Homo sapiens: one gene and its partners. The protein of the gene in region 2 purifies or fractionates together with the protein of the main gene of each other region. This does not show direct contact. Each region holds a gene or a part of one and is shown on either strand. Other genes may lie near its edges. The genes, in order: GNL3L, OAS3, LLPH, CNP, NUDCD1, GNL2 and CAPRIN1.

Region 1 (4,098 bases), on a different chromosome or scaffold from region 2:
TGAGACAGAGTCTTACTCTGTCACCCAGGCAGGAGTGTGGTGGCACAACCTTGGCTCACTGCAACTTCCACCTCCTGGGTTCAAACGATTCTCATGCCTCAACATCCCAAGTAGCTGGGACTACAGGCATGCACCACCACACCCGGCTAACTTTTGTATTTTTAGTAAAGACAGAGTTTCGCCATGTTGGTCAGGCTGGTCTCAAACTCCTGGCATCAAGCAATCTGCCCACCTTGGCCTCCCAAAGTGCTGGGATTACGGGCATGAGCCACCACGCCCAGCCACAGCATTGTTTCCAATATCACAAAATTGGAATTAGCCTATATATCCATCAATAAGAAACAGGTTAAAAAGCTGTAGCCTTAAAGTGGAATACAAATGAAATACAGCTGTTAGAAAAGGTGGCTTCTGGCCGGGTGCTGTGGCTCATTCCTGTAATCCAGCACTTTGGGAGGCCAAGGCAGGCGGATCACTTGAGGTCACGAGTTTAAGACCAGCCTGGCCAACGTGGCAAAACCACGTCTCTACTAAAAATACAAAAATTAGCTGGGTGTGGTGGCACGCACCTGTAATCCCAGCTACTCGGGAGGCTGGGGCAGAAGAATCACTTGAACCCGGGAGGCAGAGGTTGCAGTGACCCAAGATTGCACCAGTGCACCCCAGCCTGGGAGATAGAGTGAGACGTCATCTCAAAAAAAAAAAAAAGAAAAAAAAAAGAAAGAAAAGGCGGCTTCTATTTTTGCCATCAAAAAGGCCAAGAAGCTGGGCACGGTGGCTCAAACCTGTAATCCCAGTACTTTGGGAAGCTAAAGCAGGTGGATCACTTGAGGTCAGGAGTTCAAGACCAGCCTGACCAACATGGTGAAACCCTGTCTCTACTAAAAATACAAAATTAGCCAGACGTGGTAGCACATGCCTGTCATCCCAGCTACTCGGGAGGCTGAGGGAGGAGAATCACTTGAACCCAGGAGGCAGAAGTTGCAGTGAGCCGAGATCGTGCCATCCCACTCCGGCCTGGGCAACAAGAGTGAAACTCCATCTCAACAAAAATTTAAATTTAAATTTTAAAAAGGCCAAGAAAATGTAAATAAGGTATCATGTTTCTGAAAGGTTTAAAAGTTTAATGCTATCAAATGTTGCCAAGGGTGTAGGAAAAGAGGCCTCTCACACATTCATCTACCCCACTGGTGGGAGTATAAATTGGTACAGCCATCACGGAGGGTGATTCATCAGTGTCTAGGTAAAGGTAAAATGCAGAAAGGCTATGACCCAGCCACTCCCTTTCTCTACCTCACCTACAAACACACACTTGCCCATGTGCCAAGGAGACATGTACAAGGGTATTTGTGGAAGCCCAGGTTATAACGATAAAAAACTGGAAACTAATTGTATTCAGCCTCGAAAAGGCACATCTCTATAGAAAGATGTCCAAGAGAAAAAAAAAACTAAGCCACAGAATGATATACATAATACTTCCAAACAGTATTCCCTCTTTATATATACACTTCTATGTATATCCAAAGCACAGAATAACATTTGGAAGAAGGCCGAGTGCAGTGGCTTACGCCTGTAATCTCCGCACTTTGGAAGGCTGAGATGGGAGGGTCACTTGAGGCCAGGAGTTCAAGACCAGCCTGGGCACCAAAGCAAGACCCTCCCCCCATCTCTACAAAAATAAAAAAGATAAAAATTAGCCTGGCATGGTGGCATGCACTTATAGTCCAAGGTACTCAGGAGGCTGAGGCAGGAGGATGGCTTGAGCCCAGCAGTTTGAGGCTGCAATGAGCTATCATCACGCCACTGCACTGAGGCCTGGATGACCAATTGAGACCCTAAATATCTGTATCTAAAATAAATAAAGTCTGGAAGAATGCACACCAAACTGTCAATGGTAGTTACCTCTGGGCATGAATAAAGGAGACTAGAATTAGGGAGACTGGTGAAAGGGTATTTAAGCTTTATCTGTAGTTAATTTTATTTTTTCTACTTTATTTTTAAATAAGTTTAACATCCAATGCAAAATTGAAAAAAAATGTCCCTTAGTATCCAATTTTTCTCCCAGAAACAATCAGTTTCTGTATTAATATTTTACAAACCATACATATTTCTCTATTAATGATATAATTGGGAAGAACTGTGATTTGTTTCAAAGAGAAAAATGATTGGAGGTATACGTATTTTTTAAAGTTAACAAGTAGTTGGTTGTGCACAGTGGCTCACAGCTATAATCCTAGCATTTTGGGAAGCCAAGGCTGGTAGATCACCTGAGGTCAGGAGTTCGAGACCAGCCTGGCCAACATGGTGAAACCCTATCTCTACTAAAAAAAAAAAACACAAAACTTAGCCACAATCCTGGCTACTCTAGAGGCTGAGGCACAAGAATCACTTGAACCCAGGAAGCAGAGATTGCAGTGAGCCGAGATGGTGCCACTGCACTCTAGCCTGGGTGACAAAGTGAGACTCTGTCTCAAAAAATAAAAAATAAAGTTAGACCGGGAGTGGTGGCTCACGCCTGTAATCCCAGCACTTTGGGAGGCCAAGGCGGGTGGATCACCCGAGGTCAGGAGCTTGAGACCAGCCCGGCCAACACGGCGAAACCCCGTGTCTACTAAAAATACAAAAATTAGCCAGGCATGGTGGCACATGCCTGTAGTCCCAGCTACTTGGGAGGCTGAGGCAGGAGAATTGCTTGAACTTGGTGGGCAGCGGTTGCAGTAAGCCAAGATCATGCCATTGCACTCCAGCCTGGGCAACAGAGTGAGACTCTGTCTCAAATAAATAAATAAACAAACAAACAAGTAGTTAACTGTATTTTACAAATTCCCTATAGACATTATGTTTTATCCTTACAACTGAAAAAAAAGAAATGCTTCCTGAAGAGTGATAATACAGGAAGAAGTCAAGTGAAACTAATATTAAGAAGTCACTGGCCAGGCATGTTGGCTTATGCCTATAATCCCAGCACATTGGGAGGCCGAGGTGGGTGGATCACCTGAAGTCAGGAGTTCGAGACCAGCCTGGTCAACATGGCAAAACCCATCTCTACTAAAAATAAAAAAATTACAAAAATTAGCAGGGCATGGTGACGCGTGCATGTAATCCCAGCTACTTTGGAGGCTGAGGCAGGAGAATCATTTGAACCCAGGAGGTGGAGGTTGCAGTAAGCCGAGATCACACCATTGCATTCCAACCTGGGCAATAAGAGTGAAACTCCATCTCAAAAAAAAAAAAAAAAGTCACTCGGTGGAGCAAAAAGCTCAAAGTTGAAGGCCCAGTTCAATTACTAAAGGGCTGGAGGTCCCAGTCCAAGTCACGACCCTCCCAGCTCTGGCCCCAAACTACCCTGAAAGCGGCTAGATGACCCTAGCCCCAGGCTTACCAGGTTTTTGACCTGATGCTGGGTACTGGCCTTGAAAGCCACGGTTGGCAACTCATTCCGAAGGTAATCCAGCCATTTCTCCACAACCTCCTTGGGGACCAGGTCTGGGGTAAATATAGGAACAGATGGGGCTGGTAAGCAGAACAACACCTCCATGGTTCCCTCCAAAGACACCTCCACCCGTACCCAAAGCTAGGCCCACCTACCATCAACAGGTCTCTCAACTGGCCCTGTCATTCCCATCCAGTCCGCAGGTTGGAGTTAGAAAGGATAGTCTGGTCTACGGGATGCGTTAGCCCTCCCTGAAGGGGCCTCTGTTCCCTCAGGGAAAATGGACAAACTAGCTATCTGGTCCCAAATGTTCTCTTTCCAAAACAGCGCCAGGAGCATCAGAGACCCCCCAAATATTGTGTTTCCTATCCCCTCTCTGGATCATTCTAGGTTGGGCCAAATGACAAAGATAACCCTAAAAAGAATGGCTATCATGTGTGAAGTACTGACCACCATGTACCAAGCATTTTATCATTAATTCTTACAACAAATCTGTGAGGTTGGGATACCCATGGCCCATTTTACAGCTAGAGAAACAGGAGCTCTTGGAGGTGGCATGACTTATCCAGTGTCTCAGAGAAAAGAATCAGGACAGGTGGGAGGCTGAACCCTAGACATGAGTGACTCCTGAGCCCATGTGCTCCTCTGCCCCAGTCTTTGAGTTGAGG
Region 2 (4,098 bases):
AAAAACAAAATTTACAGAATTGCAAGGAACAAGGGATAAATATCCATTCAGAGCAGGAGATTTTAAGATATTTTACTCAGAAATTGAGAGACCAAACAAAAAATTATCCGAGCAAGAAGTCATAAGCTAGATCTAAAGGACCTATATAGAAGTCTGCATTCAGCAATGGAAAGCATGAGATAGAGTCTCACTCTGTCTCTCAGGCTGGAGTGCAGTGGTGCAATCTCAGCTCACTGCAACCTCTGCCTCCCAGGTTCAAGAGATTTTCCTGCCTCAGTCTCCCGAGTAGCTGGGATTACAGGTGCGTGCCACCATGCCAGGCTATTTTTTTTTTTTTTTTTTTTTTTTGTATTTTTAGTGGAGATGGGGTTTCACTGTGGCCAGGCTGGTCTCGAACTCCTGACCTCAAGTGACCTGCCCGCATTGGCCTTCCAAAATGCTGGGATTACAGGTGTGATCCACCATGCCTGGATGGAAAGCATGCATTCTTTTCAACCATGGGCAATCTAAGAAATGCCAACAAATTCCAAAGAATTGATATCACATAAAGTATGTTTTCTGACTACAGTTTTAAAAAACATAATAAGTAAATGCCGAAAGCAAACAAATCTCCAAAACATTCATTTGGAAAGCTACTTCCAAATATTCATGGATGAAAGAACAAACAATAATGTCATAATTAAAAGTACTAAATATTTAGACCGGAATGATAATAAAAATTATGCATGTCAAACAAAAGATTTGCCCTGTAGCTAATGTGATACTGAAAGGGAAATGGGTAGCTTTAATTGCATTGACTAAAACTGATAATTACTAAGCTAAGATTCACCTCCGAAAGTTAAAAAAAAATGAACCATAAAGTAAACCCTTTAAAATAAGGAAGAAAATTATAACATGAGAAATTTCTTTAAAAAAATACCAAGCAGATATGCCTACTGTTAACATTTGTTAAATCTGAATTGGGCTACATGGGTGTGTGACGTCTGTAGTTTTCTGTATGCTTGAAACATTTCATAATTAAAATATTTGTAAAGTTAAAGCACTAAATAGTTGTAAGATTTGATGGTGATGATTACTTTCAGTATCTCAAAGTAGTTTTCAATGCTTGGTCAAGTAGGAGAATTAGGATCACAAAGAGGATGGCAGGTGCCCCTGTTAGATGGGCGCCTGAGGTCCCTATCACTCTCCAAGGGACAGGCTGGGCGCCCTCACCCACAGCATCGAAGGCAGGCAGCAGGCTAACATCCGTCCAGCTCTTCAGGGCTGTGGACACCAGCTGGAACTGCAGAGCCTCAGGCACATTCTGCTCAGGAAACTGAAGGCTCAGGCTGGGCACCTGGTCCTGCCACCAGGATTCTAGCTGCGCTCGCATCTCATCAAGGATCTCTGCGCGGCGGGGCCCCTGGTCCTTGTAGTCCGTGAAGCAGTTGAGGAAGATGATGAGTTCAACATCACAGCCATCCCTTAGGTCTGTGCCCCGGCCAAATGAGCCCCCCTGTGGAGGGAAGAACAGCTCAGATCAGGGACCCTCTAGGAGCCTGGGAGTCGGACTACGATCCCATCACCTGCGCCCCATCTACAGCCTGGAACCTGCCCTCTTGCTGATGTCAGGTCTGGGGACTATGACAAAGGTCGACTGCATGGGTCCTGTGACCTCTTAGAATTGTGACAGAGAGTCAAGTTGTATCTGCCTGCACCTGCCCTCTGATCCATGAAGACTGAGCTAAGTCAGACCAAACTGCAGCAACAGATAATGGAGGTGGGATTAAGTAGGGGCAGCGACCAAACATTTTAGCCTACTATCTGCAGCATCTACTGACTGCACATCTGGGCCAGCAGTTGCAAATTGAGGTCCCAAGCCCTAATAGGGCCTGCAATTGTCCTCTGTTGCCCTGTTTCCATCAATTCCCTCCCTCCCTCCCTCCTTCACACGGGATATCACACATATCCGATACATGTAAGTGCTCACTAAATGTTTGTTGCAGGAAAGAAAGAAGAAGAGAGGATACAAAATTTCTGTTCTTCTGGAACTTACATGCTGGCTGGGGGAGGGAAGGAAGGGACCATCAATAAACAATAGGTCCTGAGAAAATGCTAAGTGCTGTGCAGAACAGAAAGGGGGCTGGTAGTGCAAGACTGCAATTTTATTTTTATTTATTTTTATTTTTGAGACGGAGTTTCACTCTTGTCGCCCAGGCTGGAGTGCAGTGGCATGGTCTCAGCTCACTGCAACCTCCGCCTCCCGGGTTCAAGCGATTTTCCTGCCTCAGCCTCCTGCATAGCTGGGATTACAGGGGCCCGTCACCATGCCCAGCTAATTTTTGTATTTTCAGTAGAGACAGGGTTTCACCATGTTGGCCAGGGTGGTCTTGAACTCCTGACCTCAGGTGATCTGCCCACCTTGGCCTCCCAAAGTTCCAGGATTACAGGCGTGAGCCACCGTGCCCGGGCAAGACTGCAATTTTAAATCGTGTGGTCAGGCCTCAGTGGACGAGGACATCAGATCAAGAAACTTGAAGAGGAGAGACAGAGAGAGCGAGAGAGAGAGAGCCAAATGGTTGGGGAAGAGAATTCTCATTTTCTTCTAGGAAGAGAAAACAGCCACTACAGAGGCCTTGAATTGTTCTGTGGACCTGGTAAGCTCAGAGCAGCCAGGAGGCCAGTGTGGAGTAAGTCAAGGCCAGAGGGAGACCAGGGCCCATCCTGTAGGACTTGAGGCCTCTGCGCCCTGTGAAACCATGGAGAATTTTGAGCTGAGGAGGGAAGTGATCTGATTCTTGTAATAGTGTTTTAAAAACTGTATCATTAAAAAAAAGAAAATCTAAGCTGGCACTTAAATATATTTTATTTAAGCCAGCAAATCATCCTTCCTGGGCCGTCCAGTTCCCCAGCCCAACCTCAGCTCCATTGCTGTAACTCCTTCCCTTCCCCACGCTGATCCCTCGATAGGGTCCCCCCTGTGTCTCCACTGGCCCAACTCACTTTACTGACTCTTGAGGCCTTGTGAACACAGTTCTCATGGAGGCAGCGCAAGATGATGTCAATGGCCTTTTTCACCTGCTCCTGGAACTGGGGGCTCGGCTTCAGGTGGTCCTGGATGAAGCGGTCCAGCTCCTTGGTGGGGATCTGAGACAGGTCCAAGGCCATTCCCGGCACAGAGGGGACGATGCTGGCTGCCCCAGTGGGGCCAGGAGCTGGGCATGAGGGAGGTTTGCTCCCTGCTCTTGGGTACACAGCATTGAGGCTCTTGCTGTTTTCAGGGGTCTTCTGGTTAGGGTCTAGCTGGATGGGGTGGCCCAAACCTGAGCATCCAGCACGTGGAAGGCCCTGGAAGGTCATTGAAGGAGCTGCCTCAGCCAGGCGCAGTGGTTTCTGCATCAACCCAATGCCTTCTCTCCCCAGCTCCCGCCCTTTGTACAGTCAGGGTGACTGAGGCTCAGAGAGGGGAAGTGGGAGGGCCATGGCTAACGCACATGGCCATCTTTGGGCAGAGTTGAAAAAGGTGCCTTTCTGGAGGGATAAACTGCAAAATGGGTGCCCTTGTGATGGGCAGAAAGGTCTGGTAACCAGACCATAGCTGCAGAAAAACAAAGGACTCCTTCCCCCGGGCAGTTTCAGCTTGAGCTTGGTGATAAGACTGTTTTACATGCCTGATGCCCTGTGCATTTTTTTTTTTTTTTTTTTTGGGACGGAGTCTTACTCTGTCACCCAGGCTGGAGTGCAATGGAGTGATCTCAGCTCATTGCAACCTCCGCCTCCCTAGTTCAAGCAATTCTCCTGCCTCAGCCTCTCGAGTAGCTGAGATTACACGCACCCACCACCATGCCTGGCTAATTTTCGTATTTTTAGTAGAGACAAGGTTTCACCATATTGTCCAGACTGGTCTCGAACTCCTGACCTCTGACCTCAGGTAATCTGCCCACCTCGGCCTCCCAATGTGTTGAGATTACAGGCGTGAGCCACCACACCTGGCCACCCCTGCTTTTTAAAGCCTGTTCCACACCATATGGCACATAGTAGATGCTCAGGAAACACTGGACACATAAACAAAGTGCAAAACCCAAGGGTCCTGGGGCCCCCTCACTTACCGGCCCCTTC
Region 3 (4,098 bases), about 47 Mb from region 2:
TTAAATTATATTTTGATTTCAGACTTAATTTCTTAAAACACAAAAAGTGTTACATTCAATTCCTAATGTGATTTAGCTCACTCAATCTAATTCCAAAATGATTTGGTGCTTAGCTTGAGCTCCATCTTGTGGCTTTACAGCAATTCTCTGGAAAATGTCAGTCAAAAAGATGACAAATTTCAAAAAAATAAGCTAATTATTTAAAAGATAAAAGGACTATGCTATACTTCTCGATTTGTAATCTTTAAAAATAAAGTGCCAAAGATGTGACCATACCCCTGCACTAATTTTGAAATGCTAGTCTAAATTTCCTGCCAATATTTGGAGGTGGGGAGAATCTTGCTGGTAGTGTTCAGGAACTCAGTGCCTTAGAGGGTACTGACAACACTGTGTCAGTAAACTTCTCTTCAGCAGTCGCCTTTCCAGAGGCCATGTGACACTTGAGAACATGATTCCCAAATATGTTTTCTGGTAATGGTGCTTTGATTTTTGATTTTGTTAACTTTCAAGTTAAATCCTGAATGGACAAACTTCATGACTGGACACAATGAAGTGAAAATCCTAACATCAGAGAGGCTCTGGATGAAAGCTCAAAGCTACTATCAACAGAATCAAATTAGAGGTTATCAGCCACAGAAAACATGAACATAACCCTGGCATTGGTCTCTACCTGACAATGCTGCCAAAATGTAAATAAGTGCCAACTGTGTAATATCACGAATGTAGACTTTTTTTTTTTTTTTTTTTGAGATGGAGTTTCGCTCTTCTTGCTCAGGCTGGAGTGCAATGGTGTGGTCTTGACTCACTGCAACCTCTGCCTCCCAGGTTCAAGCGATTCTCCTTCCTCAGCCTCCCAAGTAGCTGGGATTACAGGCACCTGCCACCATGCCCAGCTAACTTTGTATTTTTAGTAGAGACAGGGTTTCACCATGTTGGTCAGGCTGGTCTCAAACTCCTGACCTCAGGTGATCCATCTGCCTCAGCCTCCCAAATTGTTAGAATTTGGTGCCTGGCCCCCTTTTCCAAAAATCATAAAAAATGTCTACATTAGGCCGGGTGTGGTGGCTCACGCATGTAATCCCACCACTTTGGGAGGCTGGGGCAGGTGGATTACTTGAGTCCAGGAGTTTGAGACCAGCCTGGGCAACATGGCGAAACCCTGTCTCTACAAAAATACAAAAATTAGCTGGGCGTGGTGGCACCCACCTGTAGTCCCAGCTACTGGGGAGGCTGAGGTGGGAGAATCGCTTCAGCCTGGGAGGTGGAGGTTGCAGCGGAGCCACACTTGTGCCAATCACTCCAGCCTGGGTGACAGAGTGAGACCCCATCTCAAAAAAAAAAAAAAAAAAAACATAAATAATTCAGCTACTGTATTTAGGCTGATATTGTCAGTGGCTTAACTGGTTGTTTGCAATTTTTTTTATTTTATGAATAAAAATGTACATATTCACTTTTCCCTCACAAATGCTAGTGTTATTCATACCTACACCAAAGGCAACAAAGATCATGAATGACATCTTTCAATTCATATCTTTCTTAGCTGTTAAGAAATTTTAAGCATTTAAAGTTATCTACCAACTTTTCAATAAACTATTGAGAAAAATAAGAAAAGTCTACTATATTTAAACAATTCCAAGAGTTTACTGGCATCAAATTTTATAAGCTTAAATTTTCTGAAACATTTGGGTCATGTCCTCTTTATTACAATACATGTCCATGTATTGTGCCCCAATTTAGCAGTGTGCCTGGCACAAAGTTTGTGACCTCATGACCAAGTGGCCTTATTCTATTTCACATTTTACTTGAGTTCTCCTGGGAAGTTAACATCTTCTTCTAAACAGATACACAGCTCTCAGCCCTATGAGAGCAGAAATCTTATCTTATTCAATCTGTCCCAAGCATCTGGAAAGTCCCTGGCCCACATACTAGGCACTCAGTAAGTATTTGGTTGTTCCAGTTAACATATGAGATGGTTAATCTGATTATAGTGAAATTCAGAGGGAATGCTAAGTTTAGATTGCTTAACTAAAAGTAAAATAAAAATGAATTTAGCAAACTGTAGTAAGACAGATTTAACTAAAAATCATTTCTCAGAAAACTAGTTTCAAAGAGTAGACGCTAAACAGGTTTCTTTGCTGCTGGAACCCTGTAGGACTATTCTAATCCTAAACTAAAATCTTTTGTAAATCTTCAAGTATGTAGCATTTCCCAAATCGATGTGAACACAATTTATTTTTTTTAACCAAGCATCCAGAGGAAACTGATACTGAAGAACACACTCCGGGGAATGCTGCATGATACTATATTAGGCCACACAATATTAACACTAAAGAACATTAAATCAGTTTCCATGAAAAACCTGAAATGTTCTAATTTCCTAAAAAGCATACTGATTTGTATATGTTAATATTCTACCTAAAATTAAGATAAGAAAACATTTAATTGAAATCTGGTCTTCTCTAGGACTAAAAAACCTTAAGCATACATGAAAGAAAAAAAAATCAGACTTGAAGATCTACACACAAAATATCTTTTATTCTGTGGAATCAAAGCTCCACACAAGTACTTTATAAGATCCATTATTTTTTTTTTTTTTGAGACAGAGTCCTACTCCATTGCCCAGGGTGGAGTGCAGTGGGGCAATCTTGGCTCACTGCAACCTCCATCTCCTGGGTTCAAGCAATTATCCTGCCTCAGCCTCCCGAGTAGCTGGAACTACAGGTGCGCGCCCCCATGCCCGGCTAATTTTGTATTTTTAGTAGAGATGGGGTTTCACTGTATTAGCCAGGCTAGTCTCGAACTGACCTCGTGATCCACCTGCCTCGGCCTCCCAAAGTGCTGGGATTACAGGTGTGAGCCACCATGCCCAGCCCTAATGTAGTATTTTTAAATGATATGATTATACAACAACTTTCTTTAAAATCTAAGTTCACAAAAATTTGTCAGTACATCATCTGTTTTATCTCTATTGACTATAATTACCAGTTGTAAGAACAATTCTAACCATATTAATACCTGACAGAACGTTGAGGCCTGATTATAACTGGATATTGGGTAGCATCCAGTTAAAGTATCAGTAGAGCTTGGATGTATCAAAGAAAATATTTTATTCAAGTTCCCAAAACAAACTTGAGGAGTTATGCTGGGTTTGAATTGAAGAAAAAAGGCCAAGTTAAAATAGGAAAACAAATGGTTTTCATTTGGTGGCAGTTGAAATCAAAGTATACATGTGTATACATTCTAATCCGTCATCTATCCCATGTGGCATTTTCCAAGGTTTTAAGAGTCTACCAGGCCAAACCCTTTGCCACTTTCACTGCTTTTGCTTTGCTTTTCCCCTTTCTTTTCTCTCGCTTTGCCTTCAGCCTTTTTCTTTGCCTTTGGTTCATCCATATTGGGTACTGTCCATGCTGGTCTAGAAGAGTCTTTTTGTTTCTCTTAATATCAGTCTCCATTTTCATGTCATCTGCATAAAAAGATGGAAAAACTATTAACACCATGTATGAAAAAAACCACCCTGTGAAAGCATATTAATGCACTGAGAACATCAGAACATTAGAACTGAAGGTAGACCGAAAATAGAGAAGAAAAAAACTTTATAAAGAATGTTGGCATGACTGTCCTTCCTTAGAATAGTAATGTTAAATAGGAAACATTTAGGATGCATGGCTCTGAGTTAGTACATTAGTAGATATATGGTTCTGAGCACATGTGAGTTACAACAACATTTCTCATATTAAGTGATTCCTTGAGTTCAGTAAGCATACCTACACTTCTAAGGGATACACCTTAGATGTAATGAACTGATTAGGAATGACTGGCCATTTCTTAAGAACTTGAACTAAATTATAATGAACTGAGAACGAACTTCTAATGAACTCGATGGAGTAGTCAGCAGCAGGGTTGTAATGGCAGAGACAGGCACTCAACAGAGAAGACCTGGACACATCCTGGGGCTGGCATACTTTTCCTAGCTAGGTAACACCCAGAGATCCAGCTCTACTGATAGGAGACTTGGCAGGAAGCTCAGTGCAAACATGCTGTGGTACACCTATCACCTTCTCCACTGTGAAGGACATGCTCAGAGTCCCTCACTGG
Region 4 (4,098 bases), on a different chromosome or scaffold from region 2:
CTCTTGAGGAACAGCTGACCCAGGGAGGGTCCCTCCTGGAGGAGAGAAGGGGAAGTCTAACAGAAGTGAGCACAGCTGAGCAGGGGTCGGTATAGGCCCAGCATCCACTAACAACTGCGGCACGCACCTTCCATAGGCGCTCCAGGCTCAAGTGAGAAACACGAAGGCGCTCAGACAGGGCCACACGGGGACAGCCGGACTTCCTGAGGGAGCCCAGCTCCCTGCACACTGGCTTCCGGCCTCAGCGGGCTGGCTGACCTCTCGGTGCCTTGGCTTCATCACCCGTAAAACAGGGAGAACCAGAGCCTACCTCAGAGTTAATGTGGTTATGAGAGTGACTAGGTAAACAGCCCACAGGGGTGTCCGCGCACACAACAGCTGCTACTGTTGGCACCGCTCAGCTTCCCCTGGGACCCAGACAGCGCCCTGGAGGACAGGGTGAGGTCAGACTGAGGTCAGACTCGCCCTTGATGGAAACCTGCTCTTACACTTTGGTTCCCATCTGATGATATGTCTGCTTCTATCTGATTCTTTGAGACAGCCCATCCCATCTCAGCATAAACGCTTTTCTATTTTTGCTCACGATCCCTTGTCCCAACAGTGTCTGGCATGAAATGGGTAGTTAATAAATGCTAAATGAAGGCATGGTTAGGGATGGTAGCTCAGGTGTTACATATTCATTCCACTATGCTAGGGTGCTGGAACCACAGGAGTCAACGAAACTTAAAAACTCGCCCTCAGGGGAGCTTCCATTTGGGAGGACACTCTAGTGAACAAACAAACGATTGTGCTAACCTAGGCAGAGAAGTGGGAGAGTGGGCTTGGGGGTGGACACTTGGAAGTTGGAGACTGTGGATATGGGTGACATGCCTGGCATTCAGGGATCACTGTCAGTGGCTGTGGGTGTAAGGTGCCAGCTGTGTGGTGCAGAAAGGTCTCGTACCCATTAGCCAATAAGCTTCATTATCGTATGAAACTCCCTCACTCTGGGGCCAGGCCAGACCTCAGACCTGGGGACAGGGATGGGGACCTCAGTGCACCAGGCTCCCTGGGGGCGAAGGACTCCTAGTCTTTGGAAGGTAAAACAGGCTCAGAGAGACCAGAGCAGGAGCCCACTGTGGACCAGCATTCTCCATGAATCTGCAGAAGGCGAAGGTGCTTGGGGGCAGGTGAATGCACAGGCTGGCAGTACTGCCAGGGCAGGCTCCTTAGAACCTGCGGCTGAGGTCTATGCAGCTACGCCTGGGGACAGGGGAGCTAGGAGGAGGAGATGCCATTTTTCTTGAGCTGCCATCTGGTTTTTGGTCCCTGCCTGGCACCGGTACCTATCTTCAGAAGATGCTGCAGCCCCTTCTCCCCCAACCTCCCACCTCCCCCATGTGTCCCTGGGGAAGACTCACATCTTGTTGAGCGTACTCCTCTGCCCCGGGAGCCTTCCCGTAGTCACAAAACTTGGTTGTGCAATGCAGCACGCCTGGGGGTCTCTTTCCAAAGTAGGTGACCAAGTCCATCTTCTCCCTGGGCTCATCCCCAGGGACGACTGCCGGGAGAAAACGGGTGCAGTCAGGGCAGGGGAGCAGGGGCATACCAACATCCGCCACCAGGACCACCGAGGCCCAGCGCAAAACACTCGGACACTAAGCATCACCTCTCCAGCAACCCACTACAGCTCATTCATTGGTTAGTTGGTCAAACTAATGGCAACTTTAGAGCAATAAAAAGTTAAAATTCTCAGGCCAGGTGCGGTGGTTCACACCTGTAATCCCAGCACTCTGGGAGGCCGAGGTGGGTGGATCACAAGGTCAGGAATTCAAGACCAGCCTGGCCAAGATGGTGAAACCCCGTCTCTACTAAAAATACAAAGAAATTAGCCAGGCGTGGTGGCGGGCGCCTGTAATCCCAGCTACTTGGGAGGCTGAGGTAGAGAATTGCTTGAACCCAGGAGGCAGAGGATACAGCGAGCCGAGATAGTGCCACTGCACTCCAGCCTAGGCAACAGAGCAAGACTCCGTCTCCAAAAAAAAAAAAAAAAAAGTTAAAATTCTCTGGCTTTACATTGTATAGATCTTTCCATCTCTTCTCCAAACTCTAAGGCATTTGTAACAGAGGCAGGCAGTACAGGCCAAGGGAATCTAAGATTTACTAGCACCACGTCTCAAAGGGGAAGCAAGTCATGGGAAGTGGGGTGGAAAGAAAACAGAGGGCTGGGAACAACATGGTACGGTGGAAACAGCCAGAACACAGTGAATATCTCAGCTCTGCCATGTACCAGCCATCGGCCTCGGGCAAGTGACCAACCCTATCTATCAATCCAGCACAACAGTTAGGGTGACCATATACCCCAGTGTTCCCAGGACCACCAGGGAACTATCAGTAGTGCCCCATTTCACTCAGGGGCCCATCTGGACAAGCAGTCACAACGTCACCATCAGTTTAATACACACCTTGCAGGCCTATGGGGGGGCCTCCTGGTACAGGAAGGGTCTTGGACTATAATGGGGTGACATTATGGGGCTGGAAGACACAAAGAGGAGTGGAGTATCTGTGATTTTGATTTCCAGACTCCACACCTGTGGCTGTCTTTGGAGTCACTCGCTTTTTCCTGTTATGTTCTGAATTGAGTCCCCATGAGGATGTCTCGCCCTCCACAGGGGAGGAAGGCCTCTCCTGAGAGCAGCCTTGCTGGCCCATTACATTTCTCCTGCTCTAATCCTGGGCAGAAAAATCCAGTTTTCCTTTACAAATAAAATAGGCTGGGCATAGTGGCTCGCACCTGTAATCCCGGCAATTTGGGAAATTGAGGCGGGGCGTTTGAGACCAGCCTGGCCAACATGGTGAAACCCTGTCTCTACTAAAAATTTATAAATTAGCCAGGTATGGTGGCGGGTGCCTGTAATCCCAGCTACTTGGGTGGCTGAGGCAGGAGAATTGCTTGAACCCGGGAGATGGAGGTTGCAGTAAGCCGAATTGCCCCACTGCACTCCAGCCTGGGCGACAGAGCAAGACCCCCGTCTCAAAAAAAAAAAAAAAAAAGATCTGGCAATCATCCTGTCAAGCTTGATTCGTCCCATCTTGGGCCAAGGGCCCCTCCTTTCTTTTGTGCTACCGACCAGCCTGGTCAAGATGGTGAAACCCTGTCTCTACTAAAAATACAAAAATAAAAAAAAATTAGCCGGGCATGGTGGCAGGCGCCTGTATTCCCAGCTACTTGGGAAGCTGAGGCAGAGAATTGGCTTGAACCCAGGAGGCGGAGGTTGCAGTGAGCCGAGATCATGCCACTGCACTCCAGCCTGGGCAACAGAGCAAGACTCCGTCTCATAAATAAATATTAAAAGCAACTTTGAGCAGTAGTCACTCCAGGGCAGAGCCACCAGCTCACAGGTACAGGGCTTGCTCCTGGCCAATGTCACTGCAAGCACCACAGTTCACTGCAGAGTTCAAGTTTAGGAGCTGAGAAAAAAGCTCTCTGAGAACCCATACAGGCACAAATTCCCTGCTTCTGTGCAATATACACAATGTCAACAAACCAGAGTGGGGCTATTTCAGGCATGAAGATCATCTAAAATTGGGGGTGGCTGGGTGCGGTGGTGGCTCACGCCTGTAATCCCAGCACTTTGGGAGGCCAAGGCAAGCGGATCACCTGAGGTCAGGAGTTCAATACCAGCCTGGCCAACATTGTGAAACTCCGTCTCTACTAAAAATACAAAAATTAGCTGGACGTGGTGGTGCACACCTGTAGTCCTAGCTACTCGAGAGGCTGAGGCAGGAGAATTGCTTGAATCTGGGAGGCAGAGGTTGCACTGAGCTGAGATAGCGCCACTGCACTCCAGCCTGGGCAACAGAGGGAGACTCCGTGTCACAATAAATAAATAAATAAAATTGGAGGCAACCAGAAATGGCCTAAAGGCATATAGATGGATTAGTGGGTGGCACTTCTCCAACAGGTCACTCCAGGAGAGCCACCAGGACCCTTCTTTATCTCAAACCTATCATTGGAGCAAAAAGCCCATGCCAAGAGAGAACCCTGCTAGAGTGGCCAGAGTCCAGGGTTCCAGCCCGTAAACCCCACATCCCTCCTGGGTCCATGTTTTTCCATCT
Region 5 (3,933 bases), on a different chromosome or scaffold from region 2:
GGGTACCTTTTACCTTGGCTCTTTTTGTGCATTTATTCTTTCTTACCAATTCTAGAAGGCCTTACTTCTCTTTGCTTTATTACTTCTATACTTCCATCATTGGGCTTTTGTTTTTTACCACTCAACTATTATTACTTGTTCAGTAAGACACACTTACTACTAAGAAGTAATTAGAATATTCTTCCAGTAATAATCAGTGATAAGTATCAGTTTTGCCTTCTTATATGACTTGCCACACATAAACTTACCATCTGTTCTTTTCTATAGTTAATAACACAAAATATTAGAAATTCCTGTGTAATGATGGTTTAACTTGTTCTGTACAGTCATTTCCCTTTTATGTAGAAATTTGATGAGTATACTTTATTTAAGAGTATTTTTTTTAACATTGTTAACCATTCCTAATTTCTTGACACTCTGATTCTTTTTTCTAACTCTTCCCATTGGCAACTCCTCTACCTGACTCTTGTGGGTAGTCCCCAAGGTTCTAGCCCTGGTCAGACTTCCTTAGCAGGAAAGCAACCACTCTATGCCACCCTCTCCTCTTTTTTTCCCTAAAAAGAAATTTTATCTGAAAATCATTAAAATGTAGATTGTCTCTTTATCCTTAGTAATATATTATCCTTAATACTGAAAAAATCATGCTAAGGTACATAGTTGATGCTTAAATGTGTTAAAAGAGTGAATATTGTTAATGACTCTTAATATGCAAAACACATAAAATACTACTTTATTACTATCATAAATATTTTATAAATTCCTATTTAAAACATGATAAAAATCAACAAAAATACAAGGTACTATATTCTTAGCACTTGTAGTATATATCTCAATGTTCTAAGTATATGTACCTTAGAACATTGTTTAAATGTTTATGGAATCCCTGAAGCATTTCAGGAAAATAGCTTGAAATCACGGCTCTAGACCTATTCATCTTTTAACGTAGGTCAACATGCGACAATATTTAGGATTAATTATCCTGAGAGCTTTCAATTCAACATTAATCATGCAAAAAAATCACATGCACAAAGAATATTGATTACTAAAATTGGCAATATATACATAGTCATGGTTAATTAAGCACCACATTTTTATTATACATTTTTCTTATGTTCCCTAAGAGGATATTATCTTTGGGGAAAATTTTAGAGAAAATTTAGATCTACTTTCCCATCATAAAGATTTTTAATAATTCACTATTTAAATGGTCTTTTGTTTCATGAAGTTTTACAACAATACTAAAAAGTTCTGGAAATATCACTGTTTTGGTTTTTGGTTACTATACAGTTTTCCATCTCTATGATCTCGTGATGTTTGGTATCTAGTCTCTCTTTCCTAATACGAATAGAGTACTATTAGGACTCCAATTGTCAATACCAGTCCTCAGGACCTTTCCTAACTTTCTACCTAGCACCTCAATACTCTCTAGGAAACTGCAATCTGACAAAGGGTTTAGAACATGTATGCAATCCTCATCTTTTTTCCTCCTCTCTGTCATTCATTCGTTCATTAAAATTTAGTTGAGTCAAATACTTGCCCAGACAGGCAAAAGATATGTTAGGAACAAAGCTTTTCTATCTTATATTTCTTATCTTAATCTTCTGCCTCTTAAATGAAGGTCTTAACTTCCTTATTAAAATATAAAATCCAACTTGAGGTTTATATAAGATACATATCTTGAAATGGTATAAAAAGTAATAAAAATTTCCAGGTACATACATACTAAAACAAACCTGGAAAGGTAAGTTTGAAAAAACAAAATTTGTGGCAAGAAACTATAACATATAAACAGGATTATTTTGTTGAAGTTGTTAGAAAAATAAAGAGAGCCACAAGGATAAATTATAATTTGTCCTTGTGTGGTAAGATTGTTCCATCAATGGCCCCCAATGAGTCATACCATCCGCTGTCAGCTTGTGTAGTCCCCTCATTCTGACTCTAGACTTGGCCATGTGATTTGCTTTGTCCAATGGAACATTAGTAAATATGATAGATGTACAGGATCGATAAGCTCTTGCATATTGGAGCTTGCTCTCTTAAGATGTTTTCTCTACTATGGAAAGAAGATTCGTCTAGTCTACTGGAGGCTGAGAGGCCCTGTACAGCAGAGACAGCCAACTCACTGAATCGTGAAAAATAATAAAAGTCCTTGTTTTAAACCACTGAGTTTTGGTGTGGTTTGTTATGCAGTGATGGATAATGTGAAATCTTATCTCTCTTTGTCTATGTCTGTGGCAGAGCAACTGGCTAAAAGTTACATAAAGCTATACTTAATTTGAAAATAATAATAAAGGTCTCTCAGTAAACTTAAAAAATATTAGACCTGCTGTTCTCTAGCATTTCCTCCTCCATGTAGACTCAGTTATTCAATCCACTTAAATACATATGTACAATACTCAACATTTAACTATTATCCTGTACATCTTATAGGTACAGCCTGTAGCAACTAATCAACGAACAGAGTACACAATAAATATTTTTATTTTTAAACACTGAATTGTACATCTTTCATATAAAACATGAGATTCTAGCCTGTTTTAAAAAATAAGTATACTTGCTAGTACTATCTTCACTCTTTTTTTTTTTCAGAAGCCAATGTTCTCTAAATCTGCAGCTTCATTCCACAGCTTTACAGAATCATAATCTCTTGAATATATTTCCAATGTTATTAAAAAATAAAAAATCATACAAGATATATTTAGCACATTAAAACTTAAGAGGTTACAGTATAACTGTCCAGACCTCCAGGTACCACTGAATACTTTTCCAGTACAAAGAGGCCAATATGTTAGAATAATTAATTCTCTGTATTTACTTTTATTAAAAAGAGGTTTTTGGTAGTAAGAACAAATAATCTCTCATTTGTTGCCTGAAATCCTAAAATAGGATCATTGGTTTCTAGGCTTGCTACTTGCTGCTTAGCAACCTGTCCTACTTGCCTGCCTTCCTTTCTGTTGTAAAGTACAGTGGACATGGGAGCAGGCTGACGATAGATGAATACTCGACGAAGGCACTCACAAAGGGCTGCATACGAGTAATTTGGAGCACAGGCAAAAAATTTTTTGTCTCTCTTTGATGCTTGGACATAGCCTGCCAAGAATATGAGACAAACAAAAGAAAAACTATATATTAAACAGAAGGGGAAAAATGATGATTTAACATTTAATATTTTGCAATGTTTATTACAAATTAAAATGCCCAAGTAAAATATATACCATAAGGTATATAATTCTGAATCATTAACGATTAGCCACAATCAGTCTCTCCCATCTGGTACAAAAATACGACTTTAATTCCTAAGGAACAAAACAGATATGGCTTTCTCGCTTCAAAAAAAGCGTAATATAGCTTCATTTAATTTCCACGAATAATTCGAACACTAAAATTCTAAAATCTAAAACACTCAATACATGACAAAATATCTTTAAGTGCCAATTTAATATTTAGCTTCGTGAGTTACGGATAGGGCATCACAGAACCATTTTTTTCCTCTTAAATAAATTGGAAAATGTGTATAGGATACCATCATAAAGTTATTTTAGTTTTCTGTTCATAATGTATCCCTGAATGTACTAGTATTCGTGATGCATTCTCTTATTATCCCTAAAATGTTAGTGATATTTTTATACATCAATACCAACACTGTAACTGGATTTTTTTGTACTTTTAGCCCCCACAAGTAGAATGTTGATCACTATAACTTCAAAAATAATTTCAAGTCTCTAAACTGAAAAAAATCCTTATCTTAATTCATGTACATGTTTAAAAAGTATCTTTTTGGATTAAAACAACATTTATATTCCAAAATATAAATTATGATTTTTAGATAGTGACATGGTTAGCAAATGTTAGGTATTTATGATCATGTAAAATAAGAATATAACATTAATTAAAATTGAGATCTCATCAAACAATGAATAAGCAAAGGAACTA
Region 6 (4,098 bases), on a different chromosome or scaffold from region 2:
GTTGCGGAAGGAAAAATTCAAATCGGCAGAATACAAAGCCAACGAAAGTTCAAATAATTCTAAGAACAAATAAATGAACTCACTGCCTCTTTTTGCTTGGCCTCAAATGGCTTGACATTTTATCTCTAGGTGGCCCAATGCTTGAAGATGGGCTGACAATAGCAATGAGGTAATAACACTGATGCAGTCAAAGGACAATGCCTCTTCACTAAGACAGCAAAACCTCCACTTCATTTAAGAGACATGAGATGGACGAGAATGAGAGCTTTCTAGCACTGCCCAAGGGAAATGAAATTAAACCCTTTCTCAAGAGCAATGTGGCAGCTGCCTATCAAAAAGCATGCATACCTTTTGATATCATGCTTTGCTCCGTAAGAACTTATCTTTGGGGAATAATTAAGGATGAAAAAGATGCGGTCACATTGATGCTTCATCCTTGTGTTGTTCACCATAAGGAAAAACTATACACAGTATAAATGTCCAACAATGAGACTGGCCATAACAAACAAAATACTACTCTGACAATAAATATTATATTATTGTTGATTATGTACTGACATAGAAATATATTCCTAATAATCACAGCTTACTGCAGCCTCAAATTCCTGGGCTCCAGTGATCCTCCCACCTCAGCCTTCTGAGTAGCTGGGACTCTATGCCCAGCCAATTTTTTATTTTTTGTAGAGACAAGGTCTCACTATGTTGCCCAGGCTGGTCTCAAACTCCTGTGCTCAAGCGATCTTCCTGCCTCAGCCTCCCAAAAAACTAGTATTACAGGTAAGCCACTGCAGCCAGCCGGTGACTGATTCTCCTTTTGAGTATGGATCCCTACGAGAATATGATTAAAATTATAGATACTTCCTCTCCTCCTCCTCCTCCCCAAAACAAAAACAAAAAACACAAAACCCTACTGCCTTTATGTAAGCTCACAAATTTTCCACATTTTCTTCAAAGAGTCAAAGAAACCTTACAGGCCATCCATTAACTCAGAGACCTCCAGTTAAGGAAGCCCCGATATTCACAGAGGCATTAACAATGCTTAATATCAGCAATGGGATCATGAGTTATGTTCTTTTTGTTGTATTTTCCAACTTAACTATATTTCCTAATTTGTCTATGACTGGTGTATTACTATTATAAATGAAAAAATGTTATTTATTTTGGGGATGAGGAGAGACCTTTGTCAATCAAGCCACCTTAGACATCTTCAGTCTAGCCCCAATTTCACCAACGTCTCCAGTCTGAGGGAAGAAGATAACTCCATATATGAGTTAAAGCACTGAGCTTCACACAGGCAAAATAAGTTGAAAGAAAATGTTTTGTTGCAGAAGAGCAAATGATGAGATTTGCATGAACTTCAAAACTGTACCTCGACCGGGTGCAGTGGCTCACACCTGTAATCCTAGCATTTTGGGAGGCCAAGGAGTGTGGATTGCCTGAGCTCACGAGTTCAAGACTAGCCTGGGCAACACGGTGAAACCTTGTCTCTACTAAAATACAAAAAATTAGCCAGGCATGGAGGCATCCACCTGTAGTCCCAGCTACTCAAAAGGCTGAGGCAGGAGAATTGCTTGAACCTGGGAAGCGGAGGTTGCAGTGGGCCAAGATCGCACCACTGCATTCCAGCCTGGGCGACAAAGCAAGACTCCATCTCAAAAAAAAAAAAACAAAAACAAAGAAGCAAAAAAAAAAATGTACCTCACACCAGTGTCTTCAGTTACCAAATCACGATCCTTGCCCTGGTCATAGCTCTCAGTGGACATTTCAGCATTTTCGATAAGAGACTGCATATCACTTGCAAATAAGTTTGGTCGTTTCCTCTGTGACTTAGGGCCAAATGTAGTTTCAAAACTTTCAGTATCAAGAATGTGCACCTTCAAGTTCTGAAGAGAAAGGAGAATAACAGGTAAAACTAAGAAAAGCACTGAGAAAAAGCAAAAAGCTCAACACCCACCTAGGAAAGACTTTCTGATTTTATTTTTCCAAGGTTCAACCCATACCCAAATCTGTAAGACATGGTTTCAGTCTGGTTTCAAATCAGAATTACTTGTTGAAATGGCACAAACACTGGTTCCCTTATTCTGAAGTTCTGTAAGCTTCCTTGGAGAAATACAAAAGTAATACAAATAATCAAAGTAAATATGAATAGTTGTACAAAAACTTGCCAAAAACTCTGCTTTATTTCATTTATCATAAATTTCAGTCAAATGTAATTAAGGCTACAGTGGTGAAAATTAATCTTTTCCACCATTTTTTATAGCTTTCAAACAAGAGCATAAAATTCGCCAAATTCATAGATTTTGTCAAGGACAATCATACTCAAATTTGTGAGTTTTTTTTAAACCAACTGTAAATGCCAACTTTTTCTTGGAAGTTAATTTCTTTCATGGCTAAAAGGAATTGCTTGTTTTGTAAGATGCATTTTAGTTTCAGATAACATTTTCCCTAATTTAGGTAACGTTTTTATTAAATGCACATGGCAAGTCTTCGGATGAAAAACATCTAGCAAAAGTCCAAAATAATAGTTTAGATGTGATAAAAGGAACCTGATACTAACTAGAACTTGATGTGCCTGTAAAGGAGTTACAGGCATAGGAATTTCTGAAGCAAGATAAAAGAGTTGGGATCTATCACATAACGGAATGTTAACAGCCTGCAGACAATTAAAAAAAAAAAAATCACCCTTTTCCCCCTAGTACAAGCTCCTCCGTAAGCACCACTACCAAAAGCTGTGAGGATGATGCAGCAGCCCCTGTGGTTTCTGAACTTTAACAGATCCCCTCTTCCAACTTCTAAAGATCCTTAAACTATTATCATTTTCTCAGATGCCCTAACCCACAACTCAGTTTAGTTTTAGTCACTACGTTCCACTCGGGAGCATCTCCAAACAGAAGCAGCTCATTTTACATGGGAAATAGGGTCTAATGTCACTGGGTAAAATCAAGTGTGACCAAAATTATCCTTCAAAATCTCTTAACCTGTAAGTTACAGTACCCAAGGCTTTATGTCTATAAACCTACACATTAGTAAGTATAACACACATTAGTAAGTATAACACAGTAATATACAGTATATAAAGCACATATGCAAAGTTACAGTACTCTTACTGTATTGCTACAGAAATACAGTAGTTCTAAAACACATATAGATGAATATGCGTATCTGATCTAACTCCACTGTGCAAAATAATCTCAGAATTAGATTTTATAAGTAATAGATATTACACTAAAATAAAATAGTTAAGGTTTTTCAAGGCCAAAGCAGAAAACTCATCAATTACTCTGAGCAGCTTTCTGCATCAACAAAGAAGCTGACTGGTGCAACTGCAGACCCTTCATTCTACATACCAGATATTTAAACACTGAATTTTAGAAGCACTGACAACAAGTACAGGCAACGAAGCAATAAATCCATCACAGAACCTCTCTGTTCTTCTCATAAACAGGATTCAATAGTTGCTTAAAAGATGGCTTTAGGGAGAACAGACAAAGAGAACAAGGGAAATGAGCAACTTGTCTGTGGTTCATGAATTACACTCATGTGTTCCCCTGAAAGAAAACAGTCATTCTACTAATAGGTGCCATTCTTCTAGTGCATCATAAAACAAAACATAACTGACAAAACCTGAGGCAATAACCAGGCCTTGGTTTTTATTTTGTTCTGCAAGTAAACAGTTTTCTTTGAACTATTTTATTTTTATTTATTTATTTGAGACGGAGTCTTGCTCTGTCGCCTGGGCTGGCACGCAGTGGCGCAATCTCGGCTCACTGCAAGCTCTGCCTCCCGGGTTCATATCATTCTCCTGCCTCAGCCTCCTGAGTAGCTGGGACTACAGGTGCCCGCCACCACGCCCGGCTAATTTTTTTTTGTATTTTTAGTAGAGACGGGATTTCACGTGTTAGCCAGGATGGTCTCAATCTCCTGACCTTGTGATCCACCCGCCTTGGCTTCCCAAAGTGCTGGGATTCAGGCGTGAGCCACCGCGCCCAGCCTGAACTATTTAACCCACGTATGCATGTCAATGTTTTTCTCCCCTCCTCATACTGGAACTGAAGCTTACGTACTGGCTACATTTCTGGGAATTTATTATTCAATGCA
Region 7 (4,098 bases), on a different chromosome or scaffold from region 2:
GTTTGAGAAAAGCCTGCAGTCCAAGCTACTTGTGGGGAGTTAAAGGCTCCAGTACAGGATTTGAGCCCCAGAGTTAAAGGCTCCAGTATCTGATTACACCACTGCACTCCAACCTGGGCAACAGACAGAGACCCCATTTCTTAAAAAAATATATATATAAAAAAAAATCTAAAGTATCTCTATCGAGCTAGACAAGGTAGTTCATGCCCATAATCCCACCACTCTGGGAGACAGAGACAATAAGTTCGCTCAAGGCAAGGAGTTGGAGATCAGCCTGGCATCATAGTGAGCTCCTGGAGACCCTATCTCTACAAAAAAAAAAAAAAAATTAGCCAGCCATGGCGGTAAGCACCTGTAGTCCCAACTACCAACTACTCAGGAGGCTGAGGGAGGAGGATCATTGAGCCCAGGAGTTTGAGGCTGCAGTGAGTTATGCTGGCATCACTGCACTCCAGCCCGGGCAACAAAGTGAGAACCTGTCTCAAATACATAAAAGCGTCCCTACCTACATTACTATCGTGACAGGTATGGTAACTAGCCAAATTATGACCTTACTTGACAAAATAGATTATGTTTCAACCCAGTCCACGAAATGCAGCCACCATGAGTTTTTTCTTAACTTTGTCTAACTGACTCAATGCCAGATATCATGCTAAAAGCCTTCAATCAATTAACAATTAAAAGTATAGTTTATCACCAGGTGCAATGGCTCACGCCTTTAATTCCAGCACTTTGGGAGGCTGAGGTGGGCAGATCACGTGAGCTCAGAAGTTCAAGACAAGCCTGGGCAACATGGTGAAACCCCAACTTTACCAAAAATACAAAAAATTAGCTGGACGTGGTGGCACATGCGTGTATTCCCAAGCTACTTGGGAGGCTGAGGTAGGGAGGATTGCTTGTGTCCAGGAGGCAGAGGTTGCAGTAAGCCGAGATCACGGCACTGCGCTCCAGCCTGGGTGACAGAGTGAGACCCCATCTCAAAAAAAAAAAAAAAAGTACACTTTATGGTAATTCAAGTAACAAATTTAATTCCATATAAATTATACAATGCAACAGGGATATTATGTAAGTTCAGTGACAAAAGGAAAATGGCTATAAAGCCTCCAAAAATTGCACATAATTCACATATACAAGTACAGACTCAATTTAACTCATGATCTGAAATGAAAAATTCATATGGTCTGCTACTAAAACAGAAACTCTTGGACACCACCACTCTGAAGTCTAAACTGTCCTAACACTGTCAATAACTGTGCTGGAAAGCAAGGAGCCAATGAGGTGACACTGGATTTCGTACCTGTTTGAAGCTGTTCTTGCTGAAGCTCTGTTTGTTCTACTTGGTGAGGCTGACTAGAAAAGCTCTGGTTATAACTGGCCTGGTACTGATTTTGCTGTTTTAAAGTTTCTGGTTCATTAACAGGAGGAACTGGGGCATTCATATTGAACACCTGTTAGTAAATAAAGTAAATGATTAGTTCATCCTTTTATTCTCTGGTTTATAACATGGCCAAACTCAATGGTGGTTTTACCTCAGACATAAATAAAGACATCACAGAGGTCTCAAACACAAAAACATCACACACACATACAAAAATCCCTCCAAGTGATTCAATGTGGAAAAAGACATATATACCATATAGTACTTAAAGGGGAGTATAATATGCTGTGAAATGGAAGTAGGGAATTAAAAAAAATAAAAAGACATGCAATCAGCAGCCTTGGAAATGCTTTTACATATATGAGAAATCTTTTTAAAAGACAAACTCTGGCCTGGCACAGTGGCTCACACCTGTAATCCCAGCACTTTGGGAGGCTGAGGCAGGCAGATCATCTGAAGCCAAAAGTTCAAGACCAGCCTGGCCAACATGGTGAAACCCCGTCTCTACTAAAAATACAAAAATTAGCTGGGCATGGTGGCTTATGCCTGGAGTGTCAGCTACTCCAAAGGCTGAGGCATGAGAATCGCTTGAACCCAGGAGGCGGATATTGCAGTGAGCTGAGATCACGCCACTACACTCCAGCCTGGGCGACGGAGCAAGACTTTGTCTCAAAAAATAAATAAATAAGACAAACTCCTGGATGCAGTACCACTTACAGAAGTTTGTTCTATGAACTTTAACAGGGTTGAATGTTTTTTCATTTTTATTAACATATTAATCAAAAGTTATTTTAATATTTAATCTTATGAACTTTCCTCTCAGCACCGATTTAGCTGCACCCCACAGATTATAGTATTATTATTATTTTCTAGAAATTCTCTAAAGGTGCTTGCTCAAGAATCAAGGTAAAGCATAACATCTGAAACTTCAAAATACTTCAGTAAAATAAAAGATTAAGCAAACAGGGCAACTATTAAATCTAGGTAATGATTATATGGATGTTATATTAGTCTATTTCTCTGAATGTTTAAGCTTTTGTTAATCAAATCAAAAGGGTAAAACTACAAATTAAGATGATACAGGCACATCACTCATAAGGCTAAAATTTATCTCTAGAATATCCGTTAGTATCAGTTAATCTCTGGAATAATCAGTTTATGTTCAATTAAATATACCCTACAGTTAATGAAAGATGCAGACTCAAGCACAGTTAAATGAAGACCTTTAAAAAAGAAAAGAAAATCTACCATGATTCATATTACATACTAGGCAATTAATGTTAGTTAATTTGCTTACCGTTTGCATGGATTGGAATGGAGCTGCATTTACATTGATTCCACTGCTATGTAAAGGTTTGCTTGTCCCAGCCTGAAATACTTGAGGCTGAGACGCAGCAGGAAGGGATGATGATGCTGTAGTCTGGTCTGTATTTAAAGAGATTGTTGCCTAAACACAAAGTGAATAGATGCACTTTAGCGGTAAACTAAACTTAGCCAAACAAAAAGTGAACAGATGTACTAAAGTGGTAAATTAATCTCAAACTTATATGTATTAACAAACTCAAATATTTCATGAAAGCAAAGTAGGTCCAAAAAGAAGAATCATTATATTAATGGTAATGTACATCTGTTCAATTCATGAGTAAGTGCCTCATCAAATGTATGTGACCCGGTAACAGAACTTGCCTGAATCTGATCAATTGGTTCCTTCTGTGGTCGTTGCTCTGTAGCATGAGAAGGCTGGTACAAGGGTTGAGATGCTGTGTACCCCTCACTTGTGGATGATACCAAAGGAACCTAGACATAAGTAAAGAAATAAAAGCTTCTTCCTGCTTACAAAATTGACTGTTAAAAAAACAAGTTACCTCTAAGACGCATAAGGCTAAGAAATAGATACAACTGCTAAAGAAGGGAGAAATTAATATTACCATCTCTCTTTAAATTTGTATAATATAAAACCTAAAAATTGCAAAAATATATATATTTTTGAAGCTCGACGTTAAATAAACCCAAGTCTCGTTATAAAAGCCCTCCACAAGTACTTCTAAGATGGAGAAATCTGCACTAAATTTTAGAATTATGTCTAAACTATGTCTTCTGAAATTCTCAGTTCTAAATAAAAAAGGCTTATTATATTATAATACATTATTTAAAATGCAAGACTTAAGAAAAACTTAAAAAGTCATCAAGAGGAAAAATGAACCTAAACATAAAAATAAAGGCTGACAGCTATCCACAACAATAAATTTGCTGAATTCCAACAGAAGACTTGGACACTGATGAAATTCTTATTTTCTTTCATAAGCTAAGAAAGAAACCAAGGAACCAATTAAAACAAAAGTGAAAAAATATTTTTTAATTATTTTTTTAAAATAGAGATGGTGTCTCGCTACACTGCCCAGACTGGTCTTGAACTCCTGACCTCAAGTGATCCTCCCATCTCAGCCTCCTAAAGTACTAGGATTATAGGTACGAGCCACCTAACCTGGCCCTGAAGAAAATAGTTTTATCACTCTTACCTGTGTCGCTTCTGGTTGTACAGGAACTTGATTAGGCTGAGCAAGTCTAGATTCAGAATGAACTGCAAAGGTGACCAAAACATTTTTGTCAAACAAAATTAAATTTTTAGAGAGACGCGTCTAAATACCTTTTATTTCGCTATTAAAGGCTTTTTTTTTTTTTTTTTTTTTTTGCGGGGGGGGGGGGGGGGGGAGTGTCTC

What was found.
Region 1: the proteins of OAS3 (region 2) and GNL3L purify together in Homo sapiens (affinity purification with mass spectrometry; one large-scale study listed by BioGRID and IntAct). This does not show direct contact.
Region 3: the proteins of OAS3 (region 2) and LLPH purify together in Homo sapiens (affinity purification with mass spectrometry; one large-scale study listed by BioGRID and IntAct). This does not show direct contact.
Region 4: the proteins of OAS3 (region 2) and CNP purify together in Homo sapiens (affinity purification with mass spectrometry, with the first as the bait; one large-scale study listed by BioGRID). This does not show direct contact.
Region 5: the proteins of OAS3 (region 2) and NUDCD1 purify together in Homo sapiens (co-immunoprecipitation; one large-scale study listed by IntAct). This does not show direct contact.
Region 6: the proteins of OAS3 (region 2) and GNL2 purify together in Homo sapiens (affinity purification with mass spectrometry; one large-scale study listed by BioGRID and IntAct). This does not show direct contact.
Region 7: the proteins of OAS3 (region 2) and CAPRIN1 purify together in Homo sapiens (affinity purification with mass spectrometry; one large-scale study listed by BioGRID and IntAct). This does not show direct contact.

What each region holds. Positions count from the first base shown.
Region 1 is NC_000023.11:54,543,608-54,547,705, reverse strand, and holds part of GNL3L (guanine nucleotide-binding protein-like 3-like protein), read right to left. Parts: intron 3,484-4,098; coding exon 3,380-3,483; intron 1-3,379.
Region 2 is NC_000012.12:112,948,090-112,952,187, reverse strand, and holds part of OAS3 (2'-5'-oligoadenylate synthase 3), read right to left. Parts: coding exon 4,089-4,098; intron 3,328-4,088; coding exon 2,983-3,327; intron 1,496-2,982; coding exon 1,213-1,495; intron 1-1,212.
Region 3 is NC_000012.12:66,120,553-66,124,650, forward strand, and holds part of LLPH (protein LLP homolog), read right to left. Parts: intron 3,467-4,098; coding exon 3,288-3,466; 3' UTR 1-3,287. UniProt on the Homo sapiens protein: In hippocampal neurons, regulates dendritic and spine growth and synaptic transmission.
Region 4 is NC_000017.11:41,969,334-41,973,431, reverse strand, and holds part of CNP (2',3'-cyclic-nucleotide 3'-phosphodiesterase), read right to left. Parts: intron 1,541-4,098; coding exon 1,401-1,540; intron 1-1,400. UniProt on the Homo sapiens protein: Catalyzes the formation of 2'-nucleotide products from 2',3'-cyclic substrates. May participate in RNA metabolism in the myelinating cell, CNP is the third most abundant protein in central nervous system myelin.
Region 5 is NC_000008.11:109,240,212-109,244,144, forward strand, and holds the end of NUDCD1 (nudC domain-containing protein 1), read right to left. Parts: intron 3,091-3,933; coding exon 2,798-3,090; 3' UTR 708-2,797; downstream 1-707.
Region 6 is NC_000001.11:37,585,613-37,589,710, forward strand, and holds part of GNL2 (nucleolar GTP-binding protein 2), read right to left. Parts: intron 3,641-4,098; exon of another isoform or gene 3,348-3,640; intron 1,884-3,347; coding exon 1,699-1,883; intron 1-1,698. UniProt on the Homo sapiens protein: GTPase that associates with pre-60S ribosomal subunits in the nucleolus and is required for their nuclear export and maturation.
Region 7 is NC_000011.10:34,089,256-34,093,353, reverse strand, and holds part of CAPRIN1 (caprin-1), read right to left. Parts: intron 3,960-4,098; coding exon 3,898-3,959; intron 3,176-3,897; coding exon 3,065-3,175; intron 2,826-3,064; coding exon 2,676-2,825; intron 1,449-2,675; coding exon 1,298-1,448; intron 1-1,297. UniProt on the Homo sapiens protein: mRNA-binding protein that acts as a regulator of mRNAs transport, translation and/or stability, and which is involved in neurogenesis, synaptic plasticity in neurons and cell proliferation and migration in multiple cell types.